Linked DNA regions of Homo sapiens. The protein of the gene in region 2 purifies or fractionates together with the protein of the main gene of each other region. This does not show direct contact. Each region holds a gene or a part of one and is shown on either strand. Other genes may lie near its edges.

The links.
Region 1: the proteins of TRNT1 (region 2) and MVK purify together in Homo sapiens (affinity purification with mass spectrometry; one large-scale study listed by BioGRID and IntAct). This does not show direct contact.

Annotation. Positions count from the first base shown.
Region 1 is NC_000012.12:109,580,235-109,583,817, forward strand, and holds part of MVK (mevalonate kinase), read left to right. Parts: intron 1-1,160; coding exon 1,161-1,316; intron 1,317-3,583. UniProt on the Homo sapiens protein: Catalyzes the phosphorylation of mevalonate to mevalonate 5-phosphate, a key step in isoprenoid and cholesterol biosynthesis.
Region 2 is NC_000003.12:3,146,705-3,149,579, reverse strand, and holds the end of TRNT1 (CCA tRNA nucleotidyltransferase 1, mitochondrial), read right to left. Parts: intron 2,131-2,875; coding exon 1,877-2,130; intron 1,675-1,876; coding exon 1,426-1,674; 3' UTR 557-1,425; downstream 1-556. UniProt on the Homo sapiens protein: Nucleotidyltransferase that catalyzes the addition and repair of the essential 3'-terminal CCA sequence in tRNAs, which is necessary for the attachment of amino acids to the 3' terminus of tRNA molecules, using CTP and ATP as substrates. tRNA 3'-terminal CCA addition is required both for tRNA processing and repair.

The DNA.
Region 1 (3,583 bases), on a different chromosome or scaffold from region 2:
TGGGACTACAGGTGCGCACCACCATGCCTGGCTAAATTTTTAAATTTTTGTAGAGATGGAGTCTCACTGTGTTGCCCAGGCTGGTCTCAAACTCCTGGGCTCATGTGATCCAACTGCCTTGGCCTCTGAAAGTGCTGGGATTAGAGGCATGAGCGACTGCACCCGGCCCCAGCCTCTCTGTTGTTGTTTTTGTTGTTTTTGTTTTTGTCCAGAACCCAAAGGGAAAAAAACCTCAAGGGGGCAGCCCTTCCCTTGAGCAGCAGATGCTGGCTCAGTGGCCAGGCTCTATGCTGAGGACACATTCGGAAACGGCCTGATACTTGCCGTCCGAAGCAGAATTTCAACTTGAGAGAGGCATGTCCCCTTAAGTGGGTGAGGGGCATTCCAGAATCTTCCAGGCTGGGTGGGGTGGGTACGTGGAATTTGAAGACGCACATTATTACAATTTTTCTATTTGGGAAATGGGAAAAGCACTTCGTGGAAATTACCAAACATGAAGTTTGACAGTTCTTGCTTGGGGGAAATACATGTAAGATGTAGCGATTCGGACCTTTCTGGTGATCAAAAGCAGACCCGTGTTACACATGGTTGGGGAGCACCGTCTGGCGGGAGAGGCCCCGGTGAACACACAATCCTAGTGTGCGGTGGTGAGGCAGCGGTGGAGGGAGGGAGGGCAGGCGGGGGTCCTAGAAGGGGAGCCAGGAGGGTCTTTGTGGGCAGCTACGGAAAGTGTCACAGTGGAAGCGACATTTGATAAGGCCTTGAGAGATGGGTAGGGATTTCTCTGTGGGATAAGGAGGTGCACGGCTATTGCAGGCAGAGGGGCCAGCCTGTGCTCAGAGCAGGCCCACAGAAAAGCCTAGCATGTGGGCACAGGAAGGAGGTGGGAGAAAGGGGTTGACAGCTTGCCAGGTGCTTCTGGGAAGGGCTCTGGTTGAATGACCCAGGGATTTAAATGAACTTGATACCTGTTTTCTAGTTGTCTGATTCAGCATGAGTTCCTGATGTTCAATAGGGATACATTTGGGGTCAGGAATTCTCCCCCAGTTGAGAAAACTGGACCAGATGCTTGGAGTCAGGCCTGGGCCTGGCCCCTGGTTCAGTGCTGGCACCCCACTGCCCTGCGGGAGAGTCACGTTTCACACCCTGGTGTGTTTCAGGGCCCTGCCGAGCCTGGATATCGTAGTGTGGTCGGAGCTGCCCCCCGGGGCGGGCTTGGGCTCCAGCGCCGCCTACTCGGTGTGTCTGGCAGCAGCCCTCCTGACTGTGTGCGAGGAGATCCCAAACCCGCTGAAGGACGGGGATTGCGTCAACAGGTAACCATGGTCCTTACCTGGCCAGTGTCCCTCCCGCACGGCAGGACAGGGACGTGGCTTCTCTCACTGAGACCTCACCACCTCCCTGTGAGGTGAGAGGTGTCATAGTGGCCATTTTAACATGAGGAAGCTGAGCCCCGAGAGGTCAAATGGCTGGCCCAGGGCCACACAGCTAGTGCTGGCAGAGTGGGATTTGAACTCAGAGTCTGAGCTTTTCTCTCCTGCTCTCCACCACCTCTGCTCACCCCCATCTTGGCTCTGTTGGTTTCAAGCGCCCATGGTATGGTAGAAAGAGCTGGAGTCCAGATCTAGAGGGCAGCAGGTTAGATGAACCCTCCCACCTCTGCATTGACTCAGGCTAGGACAGTGTTCTCCTCTGTATGGTAATGACAGTGCCCTAGGGGTGATTGTCCAGTTTTACCACATGGTTATGAAAGAAACTAAGAGTTTGCTGAGAAATCCACATTAGGGGGTGTGCCCATTAGACTAGGGCATCTCTCCTCCTACGGGGCCGTCTCCACGGAGGGCGTGTCACCTCTCTGCGTTCCTATTGACCACGTGAGTCAGTGAGGCCTGTCCAGACAGGCTTGACCACAGACCATTTCTATCATTAGGAGAATGTTCCTTGAGAAACCACCCAGTGCGCAGAGGTTACGCAGTTTGTCCCAGGACCAGGAGTTGTGGATGAGGCCCCCAAATGCAGAGCTCTGTCCTCTTCCTGGGCTTGTTTTTGTTTTGTTTTGTTTTGTTTTCTGAGCTTGGTTTTTTTGTTTGTTTGTTTGTTTGTTTGTTTGTTTGTTTTTTGAGATGGAGTCTCGCTCTGTCACCCAGGCTGGAGTGCAGTGGTGTGATCTTGGCTCACTGCAACCTCTGCCTCCAGGTTCAAGTGATTTTCCACGGGCCAAAGGACTGGCCCTGTCTTTCAAAAGGTGGAGGGTGACTGTGTGTGTGCACTTGCATGTGTGTGTGTTCTTATGCTGCTTCTAACCATTTCTCCCACCTTCCCCTGAAGGCCAGTCATTCCTTCTCAGAACCCTTAGGGAGAGTAGACCTCCCACCCCACCCCACCCCACCACACCCCACCCATCATGTGTTTCTGAGTCGGAAAGGACTGGAGCCCAGTCTCCTTTGAAGACTCAAATCTGAGCCCCCTAAAAAACAAACTGTGTAGAGCAGGAGGAAGACTCACATTTGTTGAGAGGGCCAGGCCCTGGGCTAGGTCAGCTGCCTGAGTTACCTTCCCCCGCCTCCATCACTCACTTCATCCCAGGCACGCTGCCACCTGTTGGTCCCTGGGAAGGGCCAGCCAGCTCTGGTGTGGTTCCAGTGCTGCACAAGTGGTGTGTCTGGAATGCACCCCACACACACACCTTGCCCAGCTGGCTCCCCTTGTCCTTCAGGCACCACCACCCCGCCCCAGCCCCCAGCAATTCAGCCCATCGTACTCTTACAGAAACACCTGGTTTGTTTTTGTTTTTGTTTTTTTAACTATATTATCATTTATTAAATGTAATTAGGTAGCTCTGGATCCTTGGTCTGTTTTTTTTTTCTTTTATTATTATTATACTTTAAGTTTTAGGGTACATGTGCACAATGTGCAGGTTAGTTACATATGTATACATGTGCCATGCTGGTGTGCTGCACCCATTAGCTCATCATTTAGCATTAGGTATATCTCCTAATGCTATCCCTCCCCTCTCCCCCCATCCCACCACAGTCCCCAGAGTGTGATGTTCCCCTTCCTGTGTCCATGTGTTCTCATTGTTCAATTCCCACCTATGAGTGAGAATATGCGGTGTTTGGTTTTTTGTTCTTGCGATAGTTTACTGAGAATGATGATTTCCAATTTCATCCATGTCCCTACAAAGGACATGAACTCATCATTTTTTATGGCTGCATAGTGTTCCATGGTGTATATGTGCCACATTTTCTTAATCCAGTCTATCATTGTTGGACATTTGGGTGGGTTCCAAGTCTTTGCTATTGTGAATAGTGCTGCAATAAACACACGTGTGCATGTGTCTTTATAGCAGCATGATTTATAGTCCTTTGGGTATATACCCAGTAATGGGATGGCTGGGTCAAATGGTATTTCTAGTTCTACATCCCTGAGGAATCGCCACACTGACTTCCACAATGGTTGAACTAGTTTACAGTCCCACCAACAGTGTAAAAGTGTTCCTATTTCTCCACATCCTCTCCAGCACCTGTTGAGAAACACCTGCTTTGAAGTCACATATTGCAGTGTCATGGATTTGTTTGTATTT
Region 2 (2,875 bases):
ACTCCAGGAAGTTCCTGTCAGTAGCATAGTACCTCTCTGTAGGCTGAACTCTAAACCAGTTGCAATGAGTTACCTTGTCCCTCTGAAAAGTTAAAATTTCAGTATGTCCCATACCGTTTACTAGCAAATAAAATTTTCTGATCTGTAAAAACACACATATACTATACTACTACTGAAAATGGTTTTACACATGACAAAACCAGACCTGATAGCTAAATCTGCATACTTTCTATACAGAAATAGTATGTATTATATGACGTTGGGTCTAAATCTGTATTTTGGCAGTACTTAAATATTTTAAGTAAGTATTTCAAAGTATTATTTTATAATGCATCTAATTACTGACCTGTATGCAGTCATTTCTGAGGCTTTCTTGCATCATAGCCCCTGTGACATTTCCTCTTAGAAATATTACACTCTACAAAATTGTTTTATCAAGGTCCAAAATTACTATTTGCTCATAGAGTACAAAGATGTTATGACTGGCTACACAGAAAGGAAATAAATTATGAAATGTCAGTATAGCAGCTGAAATTATAGCAGCTGAAATAAACAGTTTGTATTATACATTTTATTTACCTGATGAAAGCATTTAGGACTCAAATCTTTAGAGAATATATAATAATAGCCATATCCTTTTAATTAATAAAATAACACTTTAAAGACAGGCATATTACCATTGTATATGACACCTAATACACATTGTCAGATACCACATAAACATATTTATCTTCCAATACCAATGTTTGTTTTATTAAAACAATAATTAATTAATAGGCTCAATAGTGACCCTCAAGTTAATCCCATGACTTCCCCAGGCTCTGCATGCATAAAGAAATCATTGTGACAGAAAAATATCAACCACATACTGAAGCATAGCTTGCTAGAACAAATCCTGTACATATGAATGCCAGCAACTGGGGACACATTTAGTATTCACATTTTATGCAAACTTACTTGGTCAATTATTTCTTTTTTAAGCACAGGTTTATTTTGGAATTCAGATAAGAACTGACACATCATAGACAGTCATTGTTAAGGTAACCCTGTTATTTCAATTGCAAACAAACAATAAACGTTTTTTCTTCAAGACAGTTACCACTTTTTAAGATCTTAGTACTACCCTATGCAAAAACAGTTTTTTTTAAAAGCCTGAACAGGTTAAGATAGATAATAGCCAACTATGTTTTCTCAGGTGAAACTATTCCAAAAGAACTGTACATTTCAGTGATATAAATCAGATCCAGAAAGGTGGATCTCTGTTTAGTTCTTGAAATATATAATTCACAAAATAAGACCCTTGTTGTTCTACAGAGGTCCCCTAAACTGTCTTTTATTCTGGTGTAGTCTCTAAAACCTCATTAAGAGGGAGGGGAGAAAATTTAGTCTTACCAGAAATGCTCTGCTTTTTAGTAGCCATCAGTTTTAGGTCTTCTTTATGTAACTCAGAAGTTCATCTTTTTCCATTTGGTAACCACTTTTTTTCCACTGTTCTCGCAACTGTTGTAATAGAGCCCCAATTTCTTTTCCTGAAGAAATGCCCACTTTTCTGATGTCATGGCCACTTACAGGAAATGGAGGAATGGACCACTGCTGCATTTCCTTTAGGAGACAGTGCTCTCCTTGGTACTTCAGTAGTTCACATACACGAGTAGTTGCATCAGGTTCCCTAGACTACGTGTCAAAATCAAACATTTAGTTTCGTCACACATGAAAACATACACTTACAATCTTATCCTAAAATTTAAATACTCAACATAAATTTTTTCATTTAAAATAAGTAAAATTCACAGATTTGTAGATCTTAGTTTTAATAAATTAATTCTAAATTCGTGACGATACTTCATATTTCTGACCAAGCCTAGTATATACTTACATCTATAATGAAGTCTTGATAGGGTTTCAATGGGTCTGAACTATCTGTTGCTTTAATTAAATCTTTCCTATTTTTAACTATAAATAAGCCAAGGTTTTTCTCCTCTTTTGCGATCTTCAACCTCAAATCCAATTTTGTGACATCATCTTGTACTTTGAATAATGAGGCCAAAAGAGTCACTGGCTTTGGTGAAAAACCATCAACATTTTTACTGACTTTGTCAAATTCTTCTAAACTTGCATTAGCAGGTAAACCTGTAGGGACAAAAGCATTTTTCACCTGTTTTTAGTGGGGATAAAAAACCACTCATATCCTAAACCTTGCCACCATTTTAGTATCCAGAAATGCTTTGTCACTAGGATACATTATATAGGTTCAGTCTGATGTTCCAACTTAAAGGCGAACCACTAATATATTGTTATTCTCTCCCCTGTCACCTTCAAAACCTCTAAAATGTTCTTGTTTCCATTAAAGCTACATCAAGAGTTCCAGGGGTAGTGGTGACAGTGGTGTCAGACTCACAAGGCATACTCTTTCTAATCACAAATTCCTGACTTTACACTGATACAAGATCCACCCCCCATTCAGTAATGTTACTGAAATTTGAAATATGCCCAAGCTTACCGAAGTGTGATAAACCATATAATCCCACTATTCTCTGTGAAAATGAATTACAACGTTTACTGAACAATTTCTGTGTACAAGTCACTCTTCTAAAAGAGCTTTACATGTATTAACTCACTGAATCCTTTTAGCTTTCCTATTAGATAGAGGCTACATTACTTTTAAACCGCTTTTTTGGGTTAGAAACTAACCCAAGTTGCAAAGACTAGATAAGGGGCTGAGCTTCCTTCAAACCTAGGTCTGACTAGAGACTACTCTACAAGCACCACAAGCTGTCTTTGAGCTCTTCCCTACTCACGACAAAACTTACCCCATAACCCAAACTTTGTCTTATTTTAAAATACTCCATTTCTCCAAGAATTCTTCAACCAAATG